4 linked regions of the Homo sapiens genome follow. The protein of the gene in region 1 interacts with the protein of each later gene in a biochemical or structural test. Each region holds a gene or a part of one and is shown on either strand. Other genes may lie near its edges. The genes, in order: PRMT1, UBAP2L, STAT1 and FGF2.

Region 1 (7,899 bases):
CAGATGAGAGGAGGAGAGGCGCCGGGCCAGCCAGGACCCTGTGGTCACGGTGAGTGACAACTCGGACTTTGACTCTGGGTAAGCCAAGGTCTCTGAGCAGCGGAGGGACAGGCGCTGATTTAGGCGCTAATGGGCGCCCTCTGGCGGCTGCCTGGGGACAGACTGCTGGGGGCGAGGGCAGAAGTAGGGGCACAGGGAGGAGGTGAGTGGATCTCACCCAAGTCGGGGGCGGTGGAGAATGCTGGATTTAACTTAGCGGTGAAGCTGACAGATTTGGCTAATGGGCCAGATGTGGGGACAGACTAAAGGATGCTGGCCCGAGCAGCTGCAGGGCGACATCTTAAGTTCCCCGAGATGGGGAAGGTGTGGGGATGGGGGCGATGGGGGTGGGGAGCAGGACTGGAGGTGGTCCGGTCTACAGTAAGATCAGAACTCATAGCACATGTTGAGGGGAATGGATATAAGTGTTGGGCTCAGCAAAGAAGCTCGTTTATTTTATTTTATTTTAATTTTTCAGATGGAGTCTCACTCTATTGCCCAGACTGGAGTGCAGTGGCACGACCTTGGCTCACTGCAACCTCCACCTCCTGGGTTCAAGCGATTCCCTGCCTCAGCCTCCTGAGTAGCTGGGGTTACAGGCGCACACCACCATGTCCGGCTAATTTTGTAGTTTTAGCAGAGACGGGGTTTTGCCCTGTTGGCCAGGCTGGTCTCGAACTCTTGGCCTCAAGTGATCCACCCACCTCGGCCTCCCAAAGTGCTGGAATTACAGGCTGAGCTACCACGCCTGGACAATTTCTTAAAAAATTTTTTTAAAGTAGGATTGATAGCAGATGAGTTTTCTCGGTGGGCCAGGTCCTCTGCTAGGGATTTCAATGGAATGATCCCATTTAAACCCACTACAACCTCATGGGGCTCTTATTGTCCTCGTCTTGTGGGGGCAGAGAGGAAAAGTCCCCAGCATGCAGAGTGTTGGAATCTGGATTTGTACACAAAGCCACGACTCTGAATTGTTCAAATCCCAAGACTCTCTTCCCCATCTCTGACTCTGTCCCCCAACTCTTCACTCTCTCTGGATCTCTGTCTAATCCCACTCCAGTGTCCTGACCCTCCTCGAGCTCAACCTTTCCTCCTCCTGCTAGGACCCTGCCCCCTCATCCCTGTGCCCTTCTGTCTGGGTCTCTGTCCCCTTGTCTGGGTGTCTGTCACCCTCCGCTCTCTGGTTCCTCGCCTTCCCGTCTCTAATCTCACAGGGCTGATGTGGACGCTGCTGTATGGGGGGAACACCTGCCCTGCTCACAGGGCTCTGCCACTTTTCCCTTCCAGGAGGGCATCCTGGCTGTTTCACCCGTGGACTTGAACTTGCCATTGGACTGAGCTCTTTCTCAGAAGCTGCTACAAGATGACACCTCATGTCCCTGCCCTCTTCGTGTGCTTTTCCAAGTCTTCCTATTCCACTCAGGGCTGTGGGGTGGTGGTTGCCCTACCTGTTTTTGCCAAAAATAAATTGTTTAAAACTTTTCTTATTAAAAACGTTACAAAGTATTCAATTGTCTGTTCTTACACTTGGGAACTAAAGTTTTAAGGAGAGGAGATTTGGTTCAGAGATTTCTGTGGCTTACGCAAATTGAGGAAAGAACCAGTTCATTCATTCTAGAAATATTTATTTGCAGCACCTACAAGAGCCTGTCTCCTGGACATGTAACATATTTGAGAGAATACCTGTAAATATTCCAGCAACTTGCATTTTTTTTTCCTATTGCACGATCTGGTTATTCTAGCTAATGCTGTATGATGGTCATGGAGTCTTTCCAGTGAATTCCACAGAAAGGTACAGTCTAACTTCACCTGTGTCTAGGACACCACCCTCTTCTTGTTTTTCTCCTCCCATTGCTCCTTTCAAGTCTCTCTTGCTGGTTTCTCATCTACCTACAGACCAGTGGTTTGTCTCACACACACCCCCCACTCTCCCTTTTTTTTTGGAGATAGGGTCTTGCTCTGTTGCCTATACTTGCACTGTTATATAGATACAGTGGCACTATCATGGCTCACTGCAGCCTCAACCTCCTGGGCTCAAGTGATCCTCCCACTTCAGCCTCTCTAGTAGCTGGAACTAAAGGCATGCGACACGACGCCTAGCTAATTTTTAAAAAAGAATTTTTATGGGAGGCCAAGGCAGGTGGATCACTTGAGGTCAGGAGTTCAAGACCAGCCAGGCCAACATGGTGAAACCCCATCTCTACTAAAAATACAAAAATTAGCCGGGCATGGTGGTGGGTGCCTGTAATCCCAGCTACTTGGGTGGCTGAGGCACGAGACTCGCTTGAACCCGGGAGGCAAGAGGTTGCAGTGAGTTGAGATCACGCCACTGCACTCCAGCCTGGGCAACAGAGCGAGACTCCGTCTCAAAAAAAAAAAAATTGTAGAAATGGGGTCTCCCTTATGTTGCCCAGGCTGGTCTCCACCTCCTGGGCTCAAGTGATCCTCCTACCTTGGCATCCCAAAGTCCTGGGATCACAGGCATGAGTCACTGTGCCTGGGCGGTTTGTCTCCTTTATAGGGCCATATCCCCCTTCACAGAGTAATGTTTGTAAATTAATAAGTGAAATGTACAGGATTACAAACCGAACCAATTACAGTTGATCCTCAGTATTTGTAGATTATTTGCAAATTTGCATCCTTGCTACAATGTATTCATACCCCAAAAATTAAGGCAGTGCTTTTGTGGTGTTTTGGAGGGCAATGCTTATGCACAGAGCTGCAACAAGCTAAAGACCTGATGTGCATATTTGCAGCTGGGCTCCTCTTGCTTCAGCTCAAACACTGGAAACAAATGTCCTTTTCTTGGTTTGTTTAGTGCCATGCTTTTCAATTTTTTTTTTTTTTTTTAAAGTTAGAGTCTCGGTCTGTCGCTCGAGCTGGAGTGCAATGGCTTCATCCTGGCTCACTGCAACCTCCACCTCCTGAGCTCAAGCGATTCTCCTGCCTCAGCCTCCCAAGTAGCTGGGATTACAGGCGTGTGCCACCAGTCCTGGCTAATTTTTTTATTTTTATTTTTATTTATTTTATTATTTTTTGAGATGGAGTCTCGCTGTGTCGCCTAGGCTGGAGTGCAGTGGCACCATCTCAGCTCACTGCAACCTCTGCCTCCCGGGTTCACGTGATTCTCCTGCCTCAGCCTCTGGAGCAGCTGGGACTACAGGCGCCCACCACCACACCCGGCTAATTTTTGTTTTTTTAGTAGAGACGGGGGTTTCACCATATTGGCTAGGCTGGTCTCGAACTCCTGAGCTTGTGATCCGCCCACCTCAGCCTTCCAAAATGCTGGGATTACAGGCGTGAGTCACCGCGCCCGGCCAAATTTTTTTTTTTTTTTTTTTTGAGACAAGAGTCTCGCTCTGTCACCCAGGCTGGAGTGCAGTGGCGCGATCTCAGCTCACTGCAAGCTCCGCCTCCCGGGTTCACGCCATCCTCCTGCCTAAGCCTCCACGCCCGGCTAATTTTTTGTATTTTTAGTAGAGACGGGGGTTTCACCATGTTAGCCAGGATGGTCTCGACCTCCTGACCTTGTGATCCGCCCGCCTCGGTCTCCCAAAATGCTGGGATTACAGGCGTGAGCCACCGCGCCCGGCCGCCTGGCGTAATTTTTGTATTTTTAATAGAAATGGGGGTTTCACCATGTTGCCCAGACTGGTCTCGAACTCCTGATGTCAAGTGATCCGCCTGCCTCCGCCTCCTAAAGTGCTGGAATTACACCCGTGAGCCATCGCGCCCGAACCCTATTGTAAATTTTAAGTCTCAGGCGTTTGCCAGCGGCACGCCAGAGAGTATAGCCTGCGCGGAGGCCCAGAAACCAAAGAGCGAGCTCATTCCGGGATTGGAGAGAAGTGTGAGCAGAGGGAAGTAGAGGGATCGGGGAGAGGAGGGGCAGGACCCACGCATTCGGCCCTTTGCATTCAGCTTCATTCAACTAGGAACTTTTTCTGCAAATCAAGGAAAGCTTCCCGGAGGAAGTGGTGCCTAAGCTGTGCTCTGATTCACGTTTAGAAGCTGACCAGACAAAGAGAGGTGGGCGTTCCTGGCAGGGGGAGGGACTTGGCAAAAACCAAGTGGCTTGAGAGGGGTTGATGGTTTTAAAAAACTTGGAATGATTATGTCAAGGGCTAGGGATTTAATGTGTTGACGACGGACTCCTATTCCTCACTTGCTTCGGGACCCCAGCTATGCCCTTCCTCTCTCTGGGCCTCTCACCGATTCCGTTTTTCCCCCAGGTAATGAGCACAAGCTCCCTTTTTCCTCCAGACTCCCCCCGGGTTGGGAGGATCCACCGAGTGGACGAGGAGTGATAATTCCTTTGAGCCAATCGTTGGTGCCTGAAGCCCCGCCTTCTTCCCTACCCGTGGGCCAATTGCCGTGTTCTCCTTGAGGCCGGCCGCTTGGCGAGGGTGGGCCAAAGGCTGCGTGACGTCGCTTCCGGATAAACCAATGGCAGCGATTAGGAGGCGGGTCGTTTTGGTGATGGACAGGTGTTTCAAGACGCCCCTTTAGCGCGGGGCTCCCCGGGAAGCTTTGAGGCGGTGCTGGGTGTAAAGGGGAGGGCATTCCTGGTGGATTTTGCCCAATCACCAGTCGCGCTTCTTGCAATAGACGGGCAGTTTTCCCCATCCCGGGTCGACTTGAGGGGGCGGGATTCTGGACGCCAGAGTTGGCAAACCCCTGACCTATGATGGACGTATTCTCTAGCCAATTACTAGACGGTATTCTCAGACGGGCCGCCTCCATTGCCAATGAAATCTTCCAGCGGGGTCGCGGTAGGCGGGCCGTGGACCCTCTGGTATAAGGCGGTCCCGGGGGAGTGAGGAGAAAGGGGGGGTCTTGGCGGCCGGAGGAGGAGTAGGTGCGGGTGAAGATGGCGGCAGCCGAGGCCGCGAACTGCATCATGGAGGTGAGCGCTTGGAGCGCCGCCGTGGGCGGGAGGCGGCTTTGGGTCGGTGTTTCACGCCTCTGTGGTGGGGAAAGGGCTCTAAGTTGGCGATATGGGGTTGGAGGTCCCCCGCCGCACACGGGGGCGCCGCACGTTCCACATCCGGGGATATCGTTTGAGGTGACGGCTCCCTAGCTTCCAAGGGCCTTCGGCATCCGGCCTAGCGGAGGGTCTTATCCCCCCTCCCACGTGGAGGAGGGCTGGGGGCGCTTCCGGCCAGGCCCCCACGTGGCCGCTGCGCGGTGGGTGGGGAGGGGGTGTGCCGAGTCCAGTGGCCCGGCGGGCTCCACGTGCGGGACAAAGGCCCCGCCCCCGGCCGGGGAGGGGCGCCCAGGGGGGCGGGGAGGGGGTCCGACCCTCCTGACGCCCCCAGCCCTCCTCCCCGGGGACCTGGGCACACGCCGTGGGGTGTGATCGACCTGGGGCCCTCCACGATGTGGGGAGTCTCTTGGGAGGAGCAGTGCTTCTCAGCCCTTTACCAACCTCCTTCCGAGCTCCGGGGGCATCTGTTGGGATATCGGACCCGGTTTTGTGCGTTCTGGGTTAGGGACTGGAGGAAAACCAAGAATGGGGTCCCCCGCCGACCCCGTTTCCCCTCCCAGAATTCTCCCCCTCGCCCAGGGCTTTAGGAGTTGGGGGATGGGGCATGCCCCTGTGACCTCCCTCTGGGTGGTGGTGGGGCATCTAGATAGAGATTTTCCCATTAATAGGCGCCGTGCACCCCCTTGTGGCCATTTCTGGGTGTGTGGGAGGGACATCTTTTTCATGGGGCGTGTCCTGAAGCCCACCTCCCCTCGGATTTCTTCCTGGCGGGCGGAGGGAGGAGGGTATGTCCGCTGGGAAGGAGTTGTGGGAAATATGTAGGCTGAGAGCTTTACCCTACTGGAGCCGTTTATCTCCCCCGGGTCTTTGTGAGGGTGCGAGATGACCTCCTTCTTCCTGAAGCCCTGTGCAGGGTCCTGAGCCCTGGGGTCCTGAGAGTGGGTGCCTGAAATGGTTTCGAGTGAGGTTTGGTTCTCGTGCAGCCATGTGGGGGAGGTTTCAGTCTTGCGTTTCAAGCCCTCTGGGGCTGGGGTTGTCTGGCGGTAGTTTTCAGTGGTATTGAGAAATAGGCCCGAGTGGGAAACCCCCTCAGCACCTTTCTTCTTATAGGCATCCCCGCTAGCTTGGGAGAGCTGGAGGGAGGGTGCTTGGAGCCTAGTAGGTCATGGCCTGTGACGTGGCCCTTCTTGGAGACTTGGATAGTGGTCACATCTGGAAGAGATGTAATCTGATGGGGCCTCTGTCCTTCCACCCCTTACCTATGGCATTGGCTGGAGGGGCAGGTCAGCTCTCAGCTGTCAGGATGCAGCTCCCAGGGGTCACTGTAATGACTTCCCACCCTCTTGGCTGTCTCCTGCACCTGGGGCTCTATGGATGGAGGAAATAACTTTCCCAGAGGTGGCCTCAGGCTTGGCCGCACCTGGAAGTCTTCAGGGCCTGGGATGGGTGTCTGAATGGGGGCGATGGCCTGACTCCCCAAGCCACTTTTTTTTTTTTTTTTTTTGAGACGGAGTCTTACTCTGTCACCCAGGCTGGAGTGCAATGGCTTGATCTCGGCTCATTGCAACCTCCGCCTCCCGGGTTCAAGCGATTCTCCTGCTTCAGCCTCCTGAGTAGCTGGGATTACAGGCACCCGCCACCAGGCCCAGCTAATTTTTGTATTTTTAGTAGAGATAGGGTTTCACCATGTTGGTCAGGCTGGTCTCAAACTCCTGACCTCAGGTGACCCACCTGCCTCGGCCTCCCAAAGTGCCGGGATTGCAGGTGTGAGCCACCGTGCCCCCAAGCCACTTTCTGGAGTCCTCTCATTCTTAGAGGGTCCAGGAGCTGCCCATCTTCCCTGGGACCCTACCTTCGTGGGCAGAGGGTCATAAGGGAGGGGGTTGGTTCCAGCTGGTTTTGTTTGGGGCTCCTGAGTCCAAGGCAGGAGCTGGGGTCTGGGGTACTAGCTCTGGGGAAGTACCCGTGTGCCACACCTCTATTCTGGAATCCTCTCAGACATGAGACTGGTTTGCAGAGGTGGCAGATGCCCTGTGGGCATATCCTGCCAGCCCCGCTCCCTTCTGCTATTCATGGCACCCTAGGATAGGGGTGTGTGTGTCAGGAAGTGTCACCTAATCTGGAGGAGATTAGGTGATGAGAGGGAGCGACAGCTGGCGGTGGTGGGTGCCAATTCCCCTGGCCTGGATGGGGGAGGTGTGTGGTCAGCTGCCTGGCCAGAGAGGGGCAGCGTGGGGGTGGGCCACCATCTCTCCAGCCACAGCTGGGATAGGAGACCCCCCTTTCTTCTCCCCTCACTTTTCCCACCCTTTCTTAAACACCCCACCTCATTACTTGCCCCCTTCGCCACCACTCCCCACCAAGAAGGAGAATTGCTGGAAACCCACCCCCCGGCCAGAGCCCAGGTTCCGCCACCCAGCCCTCCCACAGCCACTCCCAGTAGCTAATCCTTTTTCCCTGTTACTCTCTCCTAGAATTTTGTAGCCACCTTGGCTAATGGGATGAGCCTCCAGCCGCCTCTTGAAGAAGTAAATATCCTTTTGTGAGACCCCTCCCCACCCTGACCTCCACATCAATATATCTTGCCACACATCTGGCCCTTTCTTGAGGTCTAACCATACCCCTCTTGCTTCAAACCAGTTTACCCCAGGCCCCCAGACACTTAGTAGCAACCCCTCCAGGTTCACAGCCCCCGCTGGCCTCCCCCAGTATCGCCGCTACTTCCTTAACTCCACCTCCAACCCCCCTTTGCCCTTCCCTGTGTCTGCCCCCATTTTCCTTCCCCTCCCCTCCCCAGCTGTGGGCTGAGCTAGAGACGGGGTCAGAGAGACTGGAGAGATGGTAGGCGTGGCTGAGGTATCGGGGTGCTCCCC
Region 2 (7,575 bases), on another chromosome or scaffold:
TCTCATGTGGGCCTCCCAAAGTGCTGGGATTACAGGCGTGAACCACCGCGCCTGGCCCATTTTTAAACTTTTTATAGAGACAGGGTTTCCCCATATTGCCTACGCTGGTCTCGAACTCCTGAGCTGACGTGATCAGCCTGCCTCGGCCTCCCAAAGTGCTAGGATTACAGGTGTAAACCACCTCGCCTGGCCTTAAATTTTTTTTTTTTTTGATACAGAGACTCACTCTGTCACCCAGGCTGGAGTGCAATGGTGTGATCTCTGCTCACTGCAACCTCCGCCGGGGCTCAAGTGATTCTCCTGCCTCAGCCTCCTGAGTAGCTGGGATTACAGGCACACACCGCCACGCCCAGCTAATTTTTTTGCATTTTTAGTACAGTCGGGGTTTCACCGTGTTGGCCAGGCTGGTCTTGAACTCCTGACCTCAGGTGATCCACCTGCCTCAGCCTCCCAAAGTGCTGGGATTACAGGCGTTAGCCACCGCACCCAGCAAAATTTTTCAAATATACTTTATTGAGGTTGAATTTACATACAATAAATGCATTCATTTTATGTATATAAATTGATGAGTTTGACAAATGAACATACCCCCTTCACCACCACGTCAATCAAAGTAAAGAATATTTTCATCACCTGGAAATCTCCCCTCTCCCAGCCCAGGCAACATGATGTACTCTTTTACAGTTCTGCCTGTTCTAGAATTTCATATAAATGGGGTGGAAGCACATGGTACATATTCTCTTGTGAACGGCATTTTGGCTTTCTTCACTCAGCATGGTTTTTTTGTTTTTGGTGAGACAGAGTCTCGCTCTGTCACCCAGGCTGGAGTGCAGTGGTTTGATCTCAGCTTACTACAACCTCTGCCACCTGGGTTCAAGGGATTCTCCTACCTCAGCGTCCCGAGTAGTTAGGATTTTTTTCTTGTATTTTTAGTAGAGATTGGGTTTCACCATGTTGGCTGGTCTGGTCTCGAACTCCTGACCTCAAGTGTTATCTGCCCAACTCGGCCTCCCTAAGTGCTGGGATTACCGGCATGAGCTACCATGCCCGGCCCACTCAGCATGTTTTTGAGATTCATGTTTGCAATTTTTTTCATTCAGAAGTATTTTGAGGACTTGTCTTCATATATTTATCTTCAGTTTTTCATTTTTTACACTATTCCAGAATATGAATATACCACTACCTATTTTTTAGAAACAAGGTCTTGCTCTTGCCCATGCTGGAGTGCATCAGTGCAATCATAGCTCACTGCAGTCTGTAACTCCTGGGCTCACATGATCTTCTGGCCTCAGCCTCCCAAAGTGCTAGGACTACAGGTATGAGCCACTGCACTCAGCCTATATAATAATTGAAAAGTGGACATTTGAATTAAGTTTCTTCTTCAAATATTATGAACAATGCCCCTATAAATAATCTTGCACATGTTTCTTGGTACACATGAGCAAAACTTAATTTCTCTATGGTAGGAGAGAAACTGTTGGACCATGGATTAGGTACATGTGCAATCTTACCAGACAATGACCAGTTATTTTCCAAAGTGGTTTTACTAATTTATACTTTCACTAGCAATGGTTGAGAATTTAGAAAAAATTTTTAAGCAAAAGGAATATTGCTCTGAACTAGACCAAGGGACCCCTGAATAGCCAAAGTATTGATTGGTTCATGATGTGCTAGAAACTAACCCTATGTCTTTCTCATGAGGCAGGCAGGACTGTTAAGGTTTCAAGCCAGGACATCCTCCTAGAGCCTTTTCATGTACTATGTCAGCAAAGAACAAAGAGGGGAAGGTTAATAGCACTTGTTAATGAAAGTACAGTGCTCTAGGAGTTGAGGGAGTCATGAGCTCTAGCTCTACAACTAACCTGTTTTTCATTCAGCAACAAATTACAGAGTACCTGCTATGTGTAGGCCCTGGCACTAACCTGTTTTTCATTCAACAAGAAATTACTGAGTACCTACTATGTGTAGGTCCTGGCTTTATAGTCGTGAACAAAACTGGCATGGTGCCTGCATTCTTGAAGCTTACGGTCTAGCGGAAGAGAGAGGCATGTTTTAAACAAATGGACAAACATAAAAATTATGGTAAATGCTATGAAGGAAAAATCAGGGTACCATGTGAAAATAAAGAGAGGGGGAACCTACTTTAAAATAGGTAATAAGCATTCCTTTTTTGGAAGTAACATTTAAGCTAAGATCAAAAGAATGAATGAGCTAGCCAATTGAAGACCATTCCAGATCACAGGAGCAAAAAGGGTGGAAAATTCAGCCAGTGGAGCTGGGTCCCAGTGATCTGGGGAGAGCCACACAAAAGGGGGTTGGTAAGGGAAGCAGGTGTCTTTTACTTAGAAGCGAAAGACTAAAGAAGCAGAATGAGAGTGGCAGTGGGATAGCAATAATTCTGATTCACAAATGTTGGGTTTGAGATGTCTACTACAAATCTAAGTGGAAATGTCAGGTAATCAGTTGGCAATATATGTAAGGAACTCAGGAAAGAGTTCTAGGATAGAGATAAAATTTCATCTGTAGCTAAAGCCAAGGAAAGGAAGACAGTCACCTAAGGAGAAAGTACAGACAAAGATAAAAGACCACTGGGTTATTCACTTCCTATACGTCTTCTGGTAAACTGCCTCCTTTTCTTGGGCTTCTTGGTAACATGAATGGTGGAATTAGATGATTTATGGAGCTCCTCTTAAGTCTAAAATTATGTAAAGGTAACCCTTCTCATTGCTCTTGGGTTAACCTTAATGATCTCAACCCCATCCTAATCAAACAAAAAACACTGGGTAGTTTAAGATGAGCTGGGAAATATTTTACTACAAACAGTTGGGAACTTCGACCCAAGCCCTTCATTCTGCAGATACAAAAACAGAAGTTCCAGGATGAGCCACATGCTTGCCACAGCACTGAGCAGGTAAGCCAAGTTCCAAAGCGCACAGTGCCTGCTCAACTTAGTAAGTACAAGGACAAGTGCACGCAAAGAAACATGAGAATTAAAGTCATCACTAAAGGCAGAGGAAATCTCATTCTTGACCCTAAAAGATCTGGAGAAGTATGTTTAACTTGTGCCCTAAGGACCTACCTTGGGGGCATTGTGTCCCACAGGGACATGAGGTCCCCTTCGAGATTTCATTGCAAAGCGCATGATTTGCCTCTTCACAAAAATAAATAGCAGTACAAACACCTGTCCAAAAAGATGTAAAAATCCTTTAATAAAAAGTCAGTTTTGTTTTGTTTTTTTTTTAAAAAAGCATGCCTTCATTCCAAATCCCCAGATTCCGGCTCTCAGGAATGTTTCAGGGTAAAACTTGGGGCAAAGCAAGGCCGTTATGATGGGGGTGGATCTAAGAAGCCAGCAGCAGGGAGGCGTGGGGTCTGTGCTCTAGCGTTAAAGGGAGGGTTCTAGACTAACGAGGGCGGGTCGGCCCGACTAAGTGACTTAAACTCCCACCTACTCCTGGAATAAGGAGTCAAAGCCCGGATAGGCGCAGGTGAGTGGGTGGAGAATGCAGACGGGGTACAGCTCAAAAGGAGGGTCTCTACTGGGTAAGATGCGACAGCAGGAATGGGGTGGGGTAATCTCCTCACCAGGCTCCCGTAGGCCATCACCAGCACGACATTCACCCCGGAGAGCCAGTTACTGCCGGACGCCATGGCCTCCCTACCTCGCGCAGAATTGTTCGGGTTTACCCCGCTGTCCTGGCTGGTCAGCCCAGGCTCCGCCGAAGCGACGGCGCCTGGGTCCCCTGGAGCTCCCCGGCCATTTCCTTACGGGGGAAGACCAAGCCAGACCCGGCCTGAAAACATGGCGGACAGGCAGGAGAGCTGGGAAAGGAGAACGACGCCTTCCAGCTTCCCCCTGACACGTGACTCAGGCAGGCAATGGCACCCAGGAGCGTCGAGCGCTCAGACGCGGAACTACGACAGTAAGAGGAAGCGGCGGCCATCCGTGCGTCACGTGGTGGAGGCAGGGCCGCCGTGAAGGAGGCGGGGTGGACTCGCGGAGCCGGAAAGAGGTGTCTCGTGGCGAGGCGGCACGCGCACGCTTGCGTGCGCGCCCCTTTTAGCGTCACGCGCTGAGGGACGCAGGAAGGCAAGTGGGCGGGGGAAGGCGCGAGAGCGAGCGCGAGAGGGAAAAGGAGGGAGGGGGTGGGGAAGAGGGAATCTTATATCACGTGACAGGGGCGGCGCGGCCCGGGGTGTCAGTGTGGAGGAGACTGAGGTAAAGTTGGGAGCGCAGCGGCGTTGGCGGCGGCGGCGGCGGCAGCGGCAGCGCGGCGGGGCCGGGTATTGTCCGCGGCCCCTTTAAATCCGCGATCCCCCTTTTACCCTCCCTCTTTTCTCCCCTGCCCCCGCCGTATCCCCTCCCTCGGTAGGCCCCCCCACACCGTGTGTTCCCCCACTGTACACCCCCCCCCGAGTCATGCGAGCCCTGGCGCCCCCCACCTCGAGTCGGCCCCCGGAGGTTTTGTTTATGGTTGGGTTCGCGGCCTAGTGGGCCGCGCCAGAGCCGGGGCCTCGATTTGGGAGCGTGGCCGGGGCGGGGCTTGGAGCAGCCGTAGGAAGGGGGGGCCATGCGGCTAGAGCCTGAGAGGGGAGAGCGAGAAAGAGCGCGAGCGAGCGAGGCCTGGGCCTTGCCTGAGGTAGGGCTCTCTCTTCACCCCGGCCGGTGCCTGCGGAGGAGAGGGCCTCCTCCCTTTCCACCCACTGCGGGCCTCCTCTGATCCGGATCCGGCCTGGTTTGGGGGTGGCGTGGGGGAGGGAGGGCGATGGGGTGGAGCTCCCCCAAACTCCCCCATGTGGCCCTCAGTTTGGTGTGCGAAGGATTAATTTGTTCCGGCTGGGAGGTAGGGAGGAGATTGGCCCCGTGGGCTCTCGATGTGGCGCTGAGGGGGGTGAGCCTCCCATCCTCCACCCGTGGGCTTGCGTCCCCTCTCCGTTTCCAGGCTCTTTGTCAGCTCCTCTTATTACCCTCCCTTCTTTCTCACCAACCCAGTTCTTGGAATATGTTTTTGCTGCTGTCTTTAGCTTCCTGTTTATACTGTAGTTTGGGTACCCCAAACAATTGTGTTATTTGGGAAGCTGGACATGGAGGCCCCCATAGGGTGTATTTACGCTTAAGGGACGTCACTAGAGCACTGGGGTATTTGTTCACTCTTCTCATAATGGTACAGGAATGCCCAGTTTCTTCAAACCCTTAACCTTGTGGACAGCCCTTAAATTGCTTTGCAAACTGATGTCACAAACTGGAGACTGCTCCTTTTCCACCATTCTTGAAATGTAGCCACCTCTGGTGTAGGATGTTGTGGAAAGAAAAACACCACAGTAACAGGCGTTTTTGTTATTATTGTTAACGTTTTTGCCTTTGACTCTCCCTGATTATTAAATGGAGAAATCCTTTTTTTTTGTCTTCTCTCCCATCCTACCTTCCTCCGCCGCATATCCTGTTTTGGGGATACCTGATGTGACTTGCTGGGAGGTGATGGACATTACTAGTAACCAGCGTTTCTAGAGAATTAAAACATTTTGGCTGTGTATCAGTTGATAAAACTGCTTTGAGATCTGTCTCCATTGTACTTAAAGATTAGACTATCCCAATGATTACAGAGAATTAAAACATTTTGGCTGTGTATCAGTTGATAAAACTGCTTTGAGATCTGACACCATTGTCCTTAAAGATTAGACTATCTCAATGATTGTTTCCTTTGTGAATGGGAAATATTGCTGGCACATAAACTAGTGATGAAAGGCCTAAAAATGTCCTGTTTTGTTTTTCATCTTTAAAGCTCCTCCTTGCTATGTCCTAACTGGGAAGTACTCTTACTAACTAGATATCAAGGTGGTGGGGAAGGGGATGCAGGGGCCATTTCAACAAAGCATCTACAGAAATTAGTTGTTCTGTTAGAGGTAGCAAATTTTACCCAACTCAGTCTAGCTTCAGTTTCTGAATTGTTTCTTAAATTAGATTGTAAGCTCCCTGAGGGCAGCTACTAAGTCATACTGCTTTTGTATTTTCCTGAAGTATTGGACACATAGTAGATTCTCAATAAATATTTGTTATTTAGTTTTTTCAGTGAAATTTCTCTGGCTATTTTTTTAAGTAGCTAGTTTTCAAAAAAGAGTCAAGGGCACTCCTGTGTTGAAACCTCTGTTTACTCTCGCACGATTTCCTTGGTCTCCAATACTTCTCACCCTACTTCCTTTAAATCTTTTTATTTTCTAAGAAAGAGCAAGTAAGTAACAAGATTCTTCATCTCCAGTGTGATAGCTGGGAATGGGTCTGCTTGCTACTAATTCTGTGCCCTCAAGTGATCCATTCCAGATCACTTACTTTTGACCTGTTGCTCAGTGTTGTCACTACTAGGTGGTAAAAATTTTCTTAGTCACATTTCGAAGCACTTGTAAGAGGGAAATGTTACTAGCAAGAGTGATTAGGAGAATTTTTTTCTTTCTTGGTTAATTATATCTTTCAAGATGACTTTTTAATATGTTTACATCTGACTGGTACAGTATATGCAATAGTGTATAGCTAGTCATGCAGTTTATACCTGCAATATAACTTATCCTCACAAATAGATATCACATGTGGAGTAGAAAACAGTCAATATTTGTAAGTTACAGTAGTGGGTTGGAAATGACTATGCCATATTAGAAACTTCATCTTAGAGCCAATTTTAAAACAAAATAGTTTTCCTCTCGTCTTTATATATATACGTATATATGTGTATATGTAGTCTTGTTGATTTGGATTCGGGGTACTTGGTTAAACATTTTTTTTTTTTGTAAAGTTGAAACGACTATAATGCTAACCTGGGAAAATGGGCTACTGTGTAGCAAATAATCCTTTCTAGCTTGAAATACTTATGGGCTTTTGTGTGCCAATATGTGTAGGGGGAAGAGGTAATGGGTTAAAAATTACCTGAGAAGCTACCTTAAAAAAATCTTTCTTGATACAAAGACCTATGCAACCTATTGACGCAACTTGGTGAAGAATTTATGCACAGAAAAAGTCAGCTTTCTCTGTGACATCCAAGAAAGTCAGATGAAATTCACTTCCCTAATAGTTAATCCTTGCATATTTCTTTAGAAGTCCTTCCTCCCACTCAAATCCAGTAATATCTCTGGGCAGTCTAGAATTACGTTGTATAAGGTTTCATTAACAAGAAAAATTAAATATAGAGCAGAAAAGTATAAACTTACCCTCTTTGGAAGGGAATAAATGCAGAGTAACCTATTATTTTGAACACTCTATCATATGATTAATGTTTTCTTTTTTACTAAATGCAGCAGCTGAGATTGTATTATAAAACAAAGTATGAACTAAAGGAACTTGAATTCAGTAGAATCCTTCCTTGTTAGAAGTCTTGTAACAAAAACTATATTCTGGTTTGGGGAAGGCCCTGTGTGTTCTGTGTCTCTTTAAAGACTCAACTAAGTCATCTTGCCAGCATTAAGGTCTCAAGTTTAAAATGATTTCTTAGAAGCACTTTCTTCCAAATAAAACTTTGTGCTAGATGCTTTTGGTTTGAGACAAATTTGAGATTCCCTGTATATTAAGGTGAGTGGTGGAGGGTAATT
Region 3 (7,552 bases), on another chromosome or scaffold:
GAAAGTGGTATCAGTACTAAAGTGTACAGGAGCAGCCAAGCATCTGCTTAGCAGATGGGGGCAGGGTGGAGGGAAGCAGGGAGGGATGAGTGGAAGGGGTAAGAGAGCACCAAGGGTTTGAGTGACTTGGAGGGACTACTGCCCAAGTTGGAAGCAGGAGATTTCTTAGGCCCTGCCACAGTCACCAGGTTTTTCCACCAAGCATCTCCCAGCAAGTCAGTAGAAAGGGGATGTAGAAGCTGGGGATGTAGCTGCTGTTTTACAGCCATTGTTTATATCCCTGTTCTCTAAACCGAGCCTTGGTCATTTGGGAGGAGGCCTGGGAAGTCAGAATTCTCCAGTGGCCTGGTCCCTCTCTCTAGGTGTAGTGTCCCAGCTGTTACAAAGCCCACAGGACACCGTGCCCACATCCTGCTGGCTTAGAAGTTGTATTAGTCTGTTCTTGCATGGCTATAAAGAAATACCTGAGACTGGGTAATTTATAAGAAAAGAGGTTTAATTGACTTATGGTTCTGCAGGCTGTTACAGGAAGCATGGTGCTGGCATCTGCTCAGTTTCTGGGGAGGCCTCAGGAAACTTACAGTCATAGCAGCAGGTGAAGGGGAAGCACACATATCACATGGCCAGAGCAGGAGGAAGCAGGGGAGAGGTGCTCCACACTTAACCAGATCTTGTGAGAACTCGTGATCACAAGGATAGTACCAAGAGGATGGTGCTAAACTATTCATGAGAAACTGTCCCCGTGATCCAGTCACCTTCCACCAGGCCCCACCTCCAACAATGGGGATTACAATTCATGAGATTTGGGTGGGGACACAGATCCAAACCATGTCAGAATTAGACAACAGCAAAGATTTCCCTGCACAGGCAGAAAGCTGTATGGAACTCCTCAAAGTGACAACTTATTCCAACCGCCCAGAGAAACCCCTTTTGTCACTGAGTGATATGTGGCACCTTGGACTTACAGAGGATACCAGTAACATTCATGTATTTCTAATACACACTTTACAGCTGATACAATTCACATGCTTTGAACTTCTGCTGTTGGAGAATATGTAACATGAAGGAAAACTTCCTATGAAGAGAGAATAACTTTGATGACGTATGCCTGATAAAGATAAAACAAAAAATTATGGACCAATTTTACTTATGAGTATCAATATAAAAGTCCTCAATAAGATATTAGGGATCAGAATTAAATACTACATTAAGAAAGGACATGACCAAATATGATTTATTATAGGTTACAAGGGTAGTCCATGACTGGGCAACCTATTAATGCAATTCACTAAATTAATAGCTACAAGGAGAAAAAAGCATTTACTTCCTTCCACAGAAGCTGAAAAGATCTAACAGAATTCAATACTCATTCCTCATAAAAACATTGAATAAGATAGGAATTGATGGGTACCTCTTTAACACAAAAAAATATATATATCTCCATTCTAGAGACAGTATCTTACCTAACTGGGAAAACTCCAGTAAGTCAGAAACACAGCAAGGATGCTGTGTTTCCACTGCTATTTAGCATCGTATTGGTGGTATTGGCCAATGCAATTAGACAAGAGAAAACCATTAGAAGCATAAGAATTAAAAACAACATCATAAAGATGTTAGCTCTCCCTGAGTTAACTTGTAATTTTAATGTTATTCCAATAAAAATACCAACAAGTTGTTTTCTGGAGCTACACAAATTTGTTCTGAAATTTATGAAAAATAAACATGCAAGAGTAGCGAGGCAACTTCTGAACAAGTAGAGCAATGAAATGGGACTGGCCCTACTAGACAGACTATAAATCCTCTATAGTCAAACATCCTTCAAGGGTTCAGGCTTATGAATAAAAAGGCCAATGGGAAAGAAGAGAAAAATCTAGAAGGAAACCCGTGTGCATATGGAAATTCATGTGATAAAGTTGGCAGCTCAGAGCACTGGGGAAAATAATGGACTTTTCAGTAAATGCTGTTAAGACAAATGGAAAGCTAACTGGAAAAAAAGTGAAAGCAAAAAGTGGACCCATACTTCACTCTGATCATGAGAATAAACAAATATATCAGCGATCTAAAAGTTAAAAAGAAAAAAAGGAAACCTTGCAAGTGCTAGGGAAATGAGTGAATGATGTAATGTCAATAGGGAAAGGCTTTCTAATATAAGGAAAATTCCAGACATGAAGAAAAGATGATACAATTGCACATATAAAAACACCCCCGTAGAATCTGTGCTGTATAGGGCACTGTGTAAGAAAGGTTGACAAGCACAGTTTTTGCTGTGTGGGGGATTTAACTCTAAAAAAATAACATCTTTCTAGAATTTAATCTCTATGAGAACAGGGATCACTGGTTACCACTCTAACACCCGAGCCTAGAGCATTGCCTGACATTTACTTAGTACCTAGTATGTGCAGGGTACATCTGGTGTATGAAGCAAGTAGAGACCCTGTCACTTCTGAGTGTTCTGATTATCAAAAATAGGACTGAATACTCCCAGGCAAGTCTGGGTTTATATTCATTATTGACTTTATAGTAGCAGATTTTCATTGATGGCCTTAATGGAGTGATTTCATATTTCAGTATACCTCTGGATCACCCGGAATTGTGTTAAAATAGGGTTTTCTGATTGCCTAATCATATTAGCCCTTGAGATTTTCCAACAAGATCCTAGGTGGTGAGATGCTGCTGGTCTGAGGACCACACTTTGAATCAGAAAGCTTTAAGATAAATAAGGACTGAGTTAATGAGAGTAATCTTGTGTATAGTATCTGAGAAACCGTGAACTAAATTCCAGCGTGGTACCATGCAACTGTATGAATTAATGGAAACTCCCAGAAATACTGTTTATTTTAGACATGAATTGAGCCTAGTTTTTTTGTAACCTTGTTAACAGTTTGCCAGCATTTTCCAGGGCCTTGGGAAAAATTTCATATTGACACATAAGCAGGAAGCCTGTAGTACATGTCAGAAGATCTGGAAGGCAAGTGGGGACTTGACTTTGGAGTGTAACCAGCAAGTACACACCCTGAAGAAAACGATGGCTATAATCATGCCCTTCCCATTACAGGCTCAGTCGGGGAATATTCAGAGCACAGTGATGTTAGACAAACAGAAAGAGCTTGACAGTAAAGTCAGAAATGTGAAGGACAAGGTTATGGTGAGTATTGAGTAAACACATGCATTTATTCTGAAACTTTCTGTAGGGGAAAAAAGGTTTCAATTGCTTGGGGTGTAAACCTCGTAACTGAGTTCAGTCTTTTAAGTAGTTGGGAAGAAAAATTTTGCAGAAGTCTCAAGCTATAAGTAAACAAATTGGCAAAATCAATGACCAGATAGACTTTTTGAATGGCCTCTTATAACTGCCAAACATTGAGTTTAGCTTTTTCTTCCCTGAAAGATCATGCAGTAAATGTTGACTTTGCCCAGTACCCAGTAAATGAGATGTTGCTGCTCTAAATGGGCCTTTATGTCCACACCTCTCAAATCACAGTGCCCCAGGATAAACATGGCCCATCCTTCCCAGTCATCTGTTTTATCCTAAGACTTGGAAGAGGAACAAAAATACATTTTATTGAAAGAAATTTGGATACATTTCTGATTAAGACATCCACAGCAATTTTAGGATACAACTTCCAAGTCAATTTATGGAAGCAGAGGGCTGCTCTGGCGTCCTCGATGGTGCGCATTTACTCCTCTCCACTGTTAGGGCTGGTGTGGGGAGGGTTTGAGGAGTTCTTTTTCACAGAGGCCTGTGTTTGTGGAAAAGGCCTTCCAGCTTAGGGGTTTGGTCCTCTGTGGATCTCTGGGTAATAGCAGTATGGCCTTGACTTACATGCTTCAGACAGCATCTTTCCAAACTCCACATTCTTTGGAGCAACTTCATCTTGCGGTCTCCTAGGGAAACATTTCATTAAAGTAGAAACCGAGTGAGCCCAGTCCAGAAATAGCCATGGAAATCCAGAGAAGAATATGTGGAAATGTGACCAAATCCCAAACAAATGAGGCTTATTTGTAGAATGAACATACAATTTATTGTCCAGATGGAGATGCATTTGAGCCGCCAAGAGGGCACTGTTTATAATTACAGCAAGTATGAAACCAGGTCTATCCCGGTAAAGCAGGGATGTATGGTCACTTTTCTTACTTGGAAGGAATGAGGAAATTTTCTGTGAGCTTTTTCCCCGCCTGCTGTGGGCTTCACAGTGGAGTTCTTAAATCATATCTCAGAGGTAGTCTCAAAAATGATGAGGAAGAATCAAAATTTAGGCGCTGGAACCAGGTTAAGGACATACAAATCAGTTTGAGAATTATTGTACGTTTGCTTTTTTAAAAATGTTATGACATACTTATTAATGAAACCGAAATTATTTCATGTATATGATTAGAACTGTCCAAGTCAGATCTCTTTTTGGGGGAGATGGAATTGTTTTCGTGTTTCTCTGGGTTCCATAGAAGCAATACTCTGTTGCCTAAAGTCTTTGGAAGTTGCTGATCAGTAGAAAACATGTTTACATCTTTGTTTGTAGTGTATAGAGCATGAAATCAAGAGCCTGGAAGATTTACAAGATGAATATGACTTCAAATGCAAAACCTTGCAGAACAGAGGTAAGGGTTCACAACTGAAGTGGTGCCCGTTGGCTGCAATTTTTTCTGTTCACACTAGATAACGAAGATGATTACTCCTTTCTATTTGCCGAGTATTTTATGACTCTGAATTCTTCCTTGATAACCCAGGCCAGGGCTTCTCAACATCCAATATTATTGACATTTCGGGCTAATTTGTTGTTGGGGCTGTCCTGGCATTGTAGCGTGTTTAACAGCATCCCCGACTTTTACCCACCAGATGCCAGTAGCACTACCCAGGAGCCCTCACTAGTGACAACCAAAACTGTCTCCAGAGATTGCCAAAAGTCCCCTAGGGGTCAGTGACCCCTACTTGATAACCACTGGTTATGTGTTACTCACCATATTTATTGCGCCTAGCCCACTGACTGACACAGAGCGATAGATATGTGGAGTTCCCCTGCCCTAATATCTCAGGTTTCTTCAAACGTTGCAGGGCCACGTGTATACACAGCAGATAAGCTCAGTATTTTTCTCATGTTTTAAAGCAGTTTTACTGTATTTTCTTACTGTTGCGTGTTTTTAATGAGAGTAGCAACAGAAAAGATCTCAAGAATGTACATTGTGTAGGACACGTAGGGTACTGCTGTTACTCTATTCATCATCTGGGGTATACCATGGTTCATAGGCAGAGATTATCAGTATGATTTGGGTAGAAAGTATAAGAGACAGCAACTTCAACTACCACTTCCTACTCATCTACTTCTCTTTGAAAGCTACAGCTATGCTTTGTATACATTTTTTATCTGAATTCTGTTCAGATAAAACATTTTATTATTTACATTTATTTTTATAATAATAATAACATTATTATTAATGTTATTTACATTTATTTAGGTAATTACCTGACAGTGTCTTAAGTGGCAGATACTACTATGTCTGATTTACATGGGTCACTGAAAACAAGTTTTTTTTGTTTTTTTTTTGTTTTTTTTGTTTTTTTTTGGAGACGGAGTCTCGCTCTGTCGCCCAGGCTAGAGTGCAGTGGCGAGATCTCGGCTCACTCCAAGCTCCGCCTCCCGGGTTCATGCTGTTCTCCTGCCTCAGCCTCCCGAGTAGCTGGGACTACAGGCGTCTGCCACTGCGCCCGGCTAATTTTTGAAAACAAGTATTTTGTTTCAGTGTGTCTAGTTGTTATACTTAGGACTTTTTTTCATGTTCATTAAAGATCGAAGAAAGCCAAACTTTGACCTGTCACTAGGCAGCATTTGTGTCATATTTATCCTAAATTTATATGAATCTTGGCTTTTGTTGGTTTTGTCTTCTTTATATATTTACTGGCTGTCTCTCAATTTATAGAACACGAGACCAATGGTGTGGCAAAGAGTGATCAGAAACAAGAACAGCTGTTACTCAAGAAGATGTATTTAATGCTTGACAATAAGAGAAAGGTAGTTATTTACTTTCCAGAATAGCATGCCACTTTTGTTATACACTGTAAATAATGGACTCAAAGTTTAGAAGAGAGGAAAAATTATAGCCACCTGGCTTAGAGCCCCAGTTGAGAATGAAATGATATTTGCTTTTCTTTTAAAAAATATTTTAAAATTCAGTGATTAAAAATGAATTTATTTCACTTTGTTTCTTCTATTGCCTTTAGGAAGTAGTTCACAAAATAATAGAGTTGCTGAATGTCACTGAACTTACCCAGAATGCCCTGATTAATGATGAACTAGTGGAGTGGAAGCGGAGACAGCAGAGCGCCTGTATTGGGGGGCCGCCCAATGCTTGCTTGGATCAGCTGCAGAACTGGTAAGATTCTCCAAAGCAGAAAACTGGCAGCTGACTGGCTAACCACATAAACACATAAATGTACCTTTGAGCTGTGTTAGTTGAATGGACCCTGTCAAAACATTAGTATAGAGTTTGACATAGTCCAGCTTCTGCTTACCCTGGAAACACTCCCTTGGAAAGCACAGTGTTATTCATGACTCTCGCCACGTTCAGCCACGTCTGCTTGGTTTGGAGCACTCCTGTACCATGGGGTGTCGTTTGACTGTACAAAACATCAGTGACATGGTCGTTATAGAACACATTTAATGACTTGACTCTTAATGTTTCCTTAAAAACAAGATAGCTTGAGGCATTTTTCTAGGCTTACAGAATAGTTTTTTAGGAAACATTCAGTCATCCATCCAGTAATACTTATTAAATGCCTACTGTGTGCCGGGCACTGTAGGACCTGGGCACACAAGGATGAGTGATTCTTGGCCCTTGCCAACAAGGAGTTCTCAGTGTGGAGGGGGGGATGTAGACATGGTAATAATTCGTGTGGTAAAAGTATCCAGGTGCTCTAGCAAAAGGCCATCAGAATTCTGTGGAGGACAAAGGAAAGCATCTCCAGGGAAGGTTTCATAGAGGAAGTGGCCTTGTGCTGACTCAAAAGTCACTAGGATTACTCCACGTAGATCAAGGGGAAGTGCTTTCCAGCACAGAGCACAGCGTGTGCAAAGGCACACATGTGGGAGACTGCAGGGGCTGTATTGGGTGGCTGGAGAGTGGGGTGTCCAGGGAGATGGGAAGGAAAGTGGACCCGGTGGGAGATGCTGGAGCCTGATGGTGCAGGTTCTCAGCACCATGCTGGGAATGGGGGATGTACGCAGCTGTACTGCTGAGCCAAGGCAGGCTTTTTTCTTAAGCAGGAGATGTATTTCTCTGATCTTTGATTTAGAAAGGGCACTCTGGCCACAGCCTGGAGGATAGGATAGAGACAGAAAGACCAGTTGGAATACTATTAGCATATTAGTGTGGTCCAGGTGAGGGGCAACAGGAGCTGAACTTGGAATCACAGAGTGAACATGAGGGAAGGTGGCCTGGGACAATTGCTAAGGGTCCAAGGACCAGAGATCTCACGAGGTTATTTTCTATATTGCCAGTTTTTAAAAAAATCACAATTAATATTCAGCCATTTATTTTTGTTCTGTGAATTGCCTGTAGGTAC
Region 4 (7,552 bases), on another chromosome or scaffold:
TTAGTTTTTCCTAATATTCTTTTTCTGTTCCAGGATACCATATTTAGTCATCATGTCTCCTTAGTTTCCTCCAGACTGTGACAGTTTCTTAGACTTTCCTTATTTTTGATTACTTTGATAGTTTGAGGAGTACTGTTGAGGTATTTTTTAGAATGTCCTTCAACTTGCTTGATTTTTTTTTTCCTTTTTTTTTTTTTTTTTTTTTTTGAGACAGGTTCTTGCTCTGTCTCCCAGGCTGGAGGGCAGTGGTGTGATCATAGATCACCACAATCTTGAATTCTTGGGCTCAAGCGATCCTCCTACCTTGGCCTCCCAAGTAGGTGGGACTACAGATGCATGCCACCATACTCTACTAATTTGTTTTTATTTTTAGTAGAGATGAGGTCTCACTATATTGCCCAAATTGGTCTCGAACTCCTGGGCTCAAGAATCCTCCTGCCTTGGCCTCCCAAAGTGCTGGGATGACAAGTGTGAGCCATTGCACCTGACCTGATGTTTTTTTCATGGCCAGATAGGGATTTGAGTGTTTGAGAGGAAGACTATAGAAGTAAAGTACCATTTTTGTGGCATATAATGGTATATGTTATCTTCATGACTGATAACTCATGATATAATCCTTGCTTACCTGGCTGAGGTAGTATTTGTGTCCACTGTAAAGTTACTCTTTCACTTCCTTTCCATACTATACTGTTTGGAAGGAAGTCACCATGCATAGTCCACACTTAAGAGATGGAGATGATGGTTATGCTCCACCTCCTTGAGGGGTAGTATCTACATAAATCGTCATTCTTTTGCCTGGGAAATGTGTTCATTTTCCTCCATTTATTTATTTATTCAATCATTTATATCAATATGTATTCACAGATATTTATTTTATACTTTGAGTTACAATCCAATACTACATTATTTATTTTGTTGCTCAAATAGTTCCAGCTTTGGCCATTGGGAGCTCTTTCAGTTGGCTCCTGTGCCCTCCTCTTTGACATACTCTCAACAATGCATTTATTTTAAGTACTTCATTACTTTTTGGCCTACAAGATGCTCCAGGCTCATTTTGTATATTCCCTACTCCACCCTAGAATGAGCCATTTCTCCAAAGAGCATTGGTTTCTTTTATTAGAGAATGGTATTAGAAACCACAAACTGGAATGCTGGGTGTGCTTGTTGCTACTGAAGTATCTTTGCTTCTAAGCCCTCTAAGCTTAAGCTGACAGAGCAAGAAATGGTGGTACATACTAGCCTGGGTATATACATGTATTTATAAATATTTCTATATTTGGCCATCTGTATCAATATTAATATGAGGCAGAGCATGGTGGCTCACATCTGTAATCCCAGCACTTTGGGAGGCTGAGGCGGGTGGACCACGACGTCAGGAGTTCGAGACCAGCCTGACCAACATGGTGAAACCCTGTCTTTACTAAAAATACAAAAATTAGCCAGGTGTGGTGGTGCGCACCTGTAATCCCAGCTACTCAGGAGGCTGAGGCAGGAGAATCACTTCAACCTGGGAGGCAGAGGTTGCAGTGAGCCTAGATCGTGCCACTGCACTCCAGCCTGGGTGACAGAGGGAGACTCTGTCTCAAAACAAAACAAAACAAAACAAAAACATCTAAATATGAGTTCATTCATACTGATATCTCCAACCTTAATCCATCAATAACAAATGAATATTTTAGCAGTCCCCCCCACTTGCTTGTGTGTAACCTGCCACCCCCAACAGTGAGAAACATGGCTCCCGCCATCTCCTGGGATCAGTTTTTCATTATGTAGAAATATCTCACATAACCTTATTTTCTTTTTGAAATTCCAAAGTAAATTAACTATCCAGACAAAAAACAAACTTTTAAAAGTGTTGATTATGCTTTTTCATGCTACATTAGAGTCTGCTCTATTCAAATACTCCCTACAAGGGGTCAAACTGCCAGCACTATCTTTAACATTATTAGCATCATTATCAATATCAATAAATGGTTATTGGGCCCCTCTTATAGAACCATAAACTAAGCTGGTTTATGTGGACAGCCTCCAGGGGAACCTTGAGGTGTTGCCCCATCACTAACACATGACAAATTTATATCACTATCATATGTATACATCTACATTTCTTTTTTAGGTTTATACCTTTTAGACCTGAGAATACTTGTTTACTGGCATTATTGTATATAACACACTTCCTGGTATTCCAAATAAATTAGTACTTTTTAATTTCTAGTTCTGTGGTTATTAGCATTAGCAAAAAAGAAGGAAAAAAGTTAAATGATGTGTCTGTTGCATAGTAGGTGCTCAGTAAATACTGTCTCCATTTGGATGTCTGATATTCCTCTCAAACTCAACACATACAAAACTGAATTATTAACCTTTTCCTATAAAATCTGTTCCTACTCATAGCCCTCCCCACCGCATTTGATGGCAAGTTTATCATTCTAGAACAGAAACTTCAGTGCCATTCTTAATTCCCCTGTTTTTCTCATACCATGCAACCAATCCATCAGGAAACCCTATTAAGTCTACCTTCAAAATATGTACAAAAGCAGACACCTCCTTACCATTTCTACTGCTACCTCCATGATCTGAACCTTCATTCTCTCTGCCTGTATTACTGAATAACCCTTTAACTGGTCTAAGTCTGCTTTTGGCCCTCTGTAGTCTTGGCAGCGAGAATAATCCTACAAAAAGATGTCAGATCATGTTATTTTTCTGCTGAAAAGACTCCAGTGGCTCTCCATTTTCTTAGAATAAGAGCCAAATATTTACAATAGCCTACAAAACTATGAGGTCTGCCCCCTCTCCCATCCCATTACCTCTCTGATCTCATTTCCTGCTACTCTTCCCACATTGGCCTACTTGCTACCCCTCAAATACTCTGGATATGATCCTGTTGTAAGGCTTTTGCACTGGCTTTTCCTCTGATGGGAATGCTCTTCTCTGATAGCTGGATGGTTAACGCCTTCATCTCCTTCAAGCATTTGCTCAAATGTCACTTTCTCAATGGAGCCTACTGTGACCATGCTATTTAATATTGCACCTAGCTTCTACCACTCACCATTCCTAGTCCCTCTTACCCTGTTCAGGTTTACATTTTTCTAAGTTTTCTTATATTCTAACATAGAATATAATTTATTCACTTAAGCTTATTGCTTATTGTGTGTCTCCCCCAGCTAGAATTTGAGTGGCATAAAGGCAGGGATCTTGTTCAGTTTTGTTCATTGATGTGTCTTAGATGCCTAGAAGAAAAAAATATATAGATTGAATGAGTAAGTGTATTATTTAAACTCTATGCTTCCTGTACCTCTAAATTATTCTTCAATTTTAAAAAAGCAACACATAAACAAAAACTTAATTTGATATAAAGGTATCAAGTAGATGTAAGGGCAAAAGGTATCCAAAATCTGAAATGTTACCAAAAGCACTGAGTTTTAAATTCCTCATTTGTTAATGAGTATAATAATGTTAAAATATTGTTGTGACTTTTAAAGTATATGCATAAAAGCAGTCAATAATCATGCATTAAGGGATTTCTCAGCTCTTAGGCCTATATAAAATAAGGCTTTGGAAACAAGGTACAAGTTGTTATAAGCCCTTAGAAGCCACTTTCTTTGTGGTGGCATTCCTCTGAAGACCCCTTTTTATCCGAAGTTTGAAATGGTGAGCAAACACTGATAATAGGAAAACAGTTCTTTAAATATGTTTATAAAGATTAATAAAATTATAATGCACCAGTTTTTAATAGGCACACTGAGATCACAGTCACTGAAGATGACTTGGAAACTCAGAATGGAGACAATTGAAAATTGTACATATGTTGCTCTGTTAGACATCTACTTTTCTTGACCACTAAATTTTGGCCCTACTACTCATTTTTTTAAAAAAATGCAGTTTGTTTTCAAGAGCAAAACAGTTGTTTAGTAAATTTGCATTGCTGAACATTCAGCACAGATGTAAGTTTCCTTCCCTCCACTGTTTTTTTTCAAAAGTAGAAATAACTTTTGTAATAAATAAATAAGTAAATTAATTAATTAATAAGCTGTGGGTTCTATCATGTATCCACTTAGTCCCTGGTACTGTTTCTTTTCTCTGAAATATTAGGAACTGGCTGAAAAGGCAAATGTTATTGGAATAGTTAGTATTCTAGTATGCCAAGCATTGTAGGGAGTGCCAGCTAGCAAGGTGGGGCATCCGGGAAGCTGATAGAACACCAACAAATGAACATATGACTAAATGCTGTTGTTTAAATTTACCTCTGGGGAATCAGTCTATGAAGTTCCATGGTGACCTTTCATGTTGTCTTTATGGTTACTATGAATTTTCCTTTCACTCTTTGTTTCCCTTCTGCTTCTATTCTTGATCATAAACCTGGAATAGAGAAAAGGGAAGATTTTTTTTTCTTTTATCAGTGGCAATGAAGATGACAGAATAAAGTAACAGGTTAACTTCAGTTCACACGAGAGGGGTACTAAATTTCACTAGAGGTAGAGTAAAAGTATTGGATTTGGAATATATTGGTCTATATTACTCTAAGTTTAGGTGTTTCACTCTTATCACATTTGAATCTTTATGAACAGCACAAGACAGTCCTGTGTTTCATATAGCTGGGTCCTGTCAATGTGTGCTTCTCTGTAAGGCTGTGATTTATTTGCATCATGAAGAATTGAGTTTCTTTATGAGTAACGTATTACATAATAGGCAAATTAGTTAAGTTTGTATTTCAGTTTTTAAAAATCCATTTAACAGTGGTCAAAATATTAAAACCAAGTAAATATCCAGTAAAATTCTTATCTCTAGAAGATTACAGGATCTAATACCACACCCTTACTTTAGATGGCTGAGACACATTAGTCACTTTTAGTTCTTTCCCAGGCTTTACTTTACATTTTTGTTATTATGCCAGCTCTTTTCCTTGTTTTGCCAATTAATTTATGTTTTTGTCACAGTTTGTGCCATTGTTTGCCTTATCTTAGAACCAAGGAATCTGGGAAAAGGTTCAAGTCTTTTTAATGTGGGCTTTTCCAAACCTGAAGTTTCCTAGATATGAGTATATAGAAATAAACTGGAATGTGGTATTAATACAAAACCATATATTTATGTCTCTGTATACATCTTATATTTATGTGTTTAGATAAAATTTACATGTGTTTTCTATATAAGTTTATCATTCGATTGATATATATACACATAATTATAATGTAAAAATGATTTTTCCTTTTGAAGTGAATAAATTAATTTTTCCCCTTTGAGGTCAGTAAGTATCTTCAGTGCTACCCTGTGAAGTTGCTTTTTGAACAATTTATCTTTTTTTTTTTTTTGTTTTGTTTTGTTTTGTTTTTTTGAGACGGAGTCTCGCTGTGTCTCCCAGGTTGGAGTGCAGTGGCGCGATCTCGGCTCACTGCAAGCTCCGCCTCCCAGGTTCATGCCATTCTCCTGCCTCAGCCTCCCAAGTAGCTGGGACTACAGGCGCCCGCCAACACGCCCGGCTAATTTTTTGTATTTTTAGTAGAAACGGGGTTTCACCGTGTTAGCCAAGATGGTCTCGATCTCCTGACCTCGTGATCCGCCCGTCTCGGCCTCCCAAAGTGCTAGGATTACAGGCGTGAGCCACCGCGCCCGGCCGAACATTTATCTTAAATAATGTGGTAGCTATTAAATTCCATTACTTGGAGTATTATTTCCAGGTCTTTTTGAAAGCCAGCTATCCTTTTTTTTTTTTTTTTGATAAATAGTTGAATTGAAATTAAAAGGCAAAGTCCCTCCCTCCTGAAAGAGACTGCCAGAAATCAGTATGATACTTACTTATTCCTCATTGTCTAACAGTGTTTGGAGATTGTTAATCATATGTAATATAATGTTCCAATATTATTTTTGGCATTATATACCAATAGCTATTTTCTGTACAATAAACTATTCATTATTATGCCTTAAAAAACATTAGCCACTTAAAACTTTTTGTTAAAATTTGGGGAATTAACTCTTCTTGTGAGTAAAGTATTAACAAACCTCCTTCTGTATGGAAAGATTACAATGGGTTAGCCTTCTACTGCTGCTTCTGATAAAAGTAAAAATGATCCCTGATTGGTAACCTACCTTGGGACTGGGAAGAGTGTGGATGGATCATAAATACTGCTGGGAGCTATAGCTTTGGGCTTCCCATAGCATATTTCTTCTTACTGGGTATGTCCCTCCTTGTGTTTAACACCTGACCTGTCTGTTTTGGAGCTGGAGAATTGTCTCTGAACTCCTACTGAAGAGACATACTTGATGCTGTCCTGCTGACATGCTGTGTTCCTGGCCTGCATCCTTCTTCAGAACTAGTCTGTGTCACATTTTGGCCCATTGAATCTTGTTAGTTTGATTGCCCTGCTGAACCCAACATCACTGCTGCTGGTTGAGCAGAATAGGCATTATACTATCATAAATATTTAATATGAAAAGTGTAATAATAATAATGATAATAATAACAGGTAATTCTTCCTTTATTTTTCAGAAATGTGTTACGGATGAGTGTTTCTTTTTTGAACGATTGGAATCTAATAACTACAATACTTACCGGTCAAGGAAATACACCAGTTGGTATGTGGCACTGAAACGAACTGGGCAGTATAAACTTGGATCCAAAACAGGACCTGGGCAGAAAGCTATACTTTTTCTTCCAATGTCTGCTAAGAGCTGATTTTAATGGCCACATCTAATCTCATTTCACATGAAAGAAGAAGTATATTTTAGAAATTTGTTAATGAGAGTAAAAGAAAATAAATGTGTATAGCTCAGTTTGGATAATTGGTCAAACAATTTTTTATCCAGTAGTAAAATATGTAACCATTGTCCCAGTAAAGAAAAATAACAAAAGTTGTAAAATGTATATTCTCCCTTTTATATTGCATCTGCTGTTACCCAGTGAAGCTTACCTAGAGCAATGATCTTTTTCACGCATTTGCTTTATTCGAAAAGAGGCTTTTAAAATGTGCATGTTTAGAAACAAAATTTCTTCATGGAAATCATATACATTAGAAAATCACAGTCAGATGTTTAATCAATCCAAAATGTCCACTATTTCTTATGTCATTCGTTAGTCTACATGTTTCTAAACATATAAATGTGAATTTAATCAATTCCTTTCATAGTTTTATAATTCTCTGGCAGTTCCTTATGATAGAGTTTATAAAACAGTCCTGTGTAAACTGCTGGAAGTTCTTCCACAGTCAGGTCAATTTTGTCAAACCCTTCTCTGTACCCATACAGCAGCAGCCTAGCAACTCTGCTGGTGATGGGAGTTGTATTTTCAGTCTTCGCCAGGTCATTGAGATCCATCCACTCACATCTTAAGCATTCTTCCTGGCAAAAATTTATGGTGAATGAATATGGCTTTAGGCGGCAGATGATATACATATCTGACTTCCCAAAAGCTCCAGGATTTGTGTGCTGTTGCCGAATACTCAGGACGGACCTGAATTCTGATTTTATACCAGTCTCTTCAAAAACTTCTCGAACCGCTGTGTCTCCTACGTAAAAAAAGAGATGTACAAATCAATAATAATTACACTTTTAGAAACTGTAT

What was found.
Region 2: of the proteins of PRMT1 (region 1) and UBAP2L, one has a biochemical effect on the other in vitro, tested with the Homo sapiens proteins (2 studies listed by BioGRID, with this or other methods).
Region 3: of the proteins of PRMT1 (region 1) and STAT1, one has a biochemical effect on the other in vitro, tested with the Homo sapiens proteins (one study listed by BioGRID).
Region 4: of the proteins of PRMT1 (region 1) and FGF2, one has a biochemical effect on the other in vitro, tested with the Homo sapiens proteins (one study listed by BioGRID).

The regions. Positions count from the first base shown.
Region 1 is NC_000019.10:49,672,372-49,680,270, forward strand, and holds the start of PRMT1 (protein arginine N-methyltransferase 1), read left to right. Parts: upstream 1-4,899; 5' UTR 4,900-4,909; coding exon 4,910-4,945; intron 4,946-7,498; exon of another isoform or gene 7,499-7,500; coding exon 7,501-7,554; exon of another isoform or gene 7,555-7,558; intron 7,559-7,768; exon of another isoform or gene 7,769-7,864; coding exon of another isoform or gene 7,865-7,882; intron 7,883-7,899. Other genes in the region: BCL2L12 (bcl-2-like protein 12), read left to right, coding at 1,327-1,377. UniProt on the Homo sapiens protein: Arginine methyltransferase that methylates (mono and asymmetric dimethylation) the guanidino nitrogens of arginyl residues present in proteins such as ESR1, histone H2, H3 and H4, FMR1, ILF3, HNRNPA1, HNRNPD, NFATC2IP, SUPT5H, TAF15, EWS, HABP4, SERBP1, RBM15, FOXO1, CHTOP, MAP3K5/ASK1, MICU1 and NPRL2.
Region 2 is NC_000001.11:154,216,757-154,224,331, forward strand, and holds the start of UBAP2L (ubiquitin-associated protein 2-like), read left to right. Parts: upstream 1-4,198; 5' UTR 4,199-4,219; exon of another isoform or gene 4,220-4,284; intron 4,285-4,547; exon of another isoform or gene 4,548-4,640; intron 4,641-7,575. Other genes in the region: LTAP1 (protein C1orf43), read right to left, coding at 3,080-3,181, 3,586-3,651. UniProt on the Homo sapiens protein: Recruits the ubiquitination machinery to RNA polymerase II for polyubiquitination, removal and degradation, when the transcription-coupled nucleotide excision repair (TC-NER) machinery fails to resolve DNA damage.
Region 3 is NC_000002.12:190,996,667-191,004,218, reverse strand, and holds part of STAT1 (signal transducer and activator of transcription 1-alpha/beta), read left to right. Parts: intron 1-3,055; coding exon 3,056-3,145; intron 3,146-4,514; coding exon 4,515-4,593; intron 4,594-5,910; coding exon 5,911-6,002; intron 6,003-6,211; coding exon 6,212-6,363; intron 6,364-7,552. UniProt on the Homo sapiens protein: Signal transducer and transcription activator that mediates cellular responses to interferons (IFNs), cytokine KITLG/SCF and other cytokines and other growth factors.
Region 4 is NC_000004.12:122,885,730-122,893,281, forward strand, and holds part of FGF2 (fibroblast growth factor 2 isoform 18 kDa), read left to right. Parts: intron 1-6,481; coding exon 6,482-6,667; 3' UTR 6,668-7,098; coding exon of another isoform or gene 7,099-7,496; 3' UTR 7,497-7,552. Other genes in the region: NUDT6 (nucleoside diphosphate-linked moiety X motif 6), read right to left, coding at 7,099-7,496. UniProt on the Homo sapiens protein: Acts as a ligand for FGFR1, FGFR2, FGFR3 and FGFR4. Also acts as an integrin ligand which is required for FGF2 signaling. Binds to integrin ITGAV:ITGB3.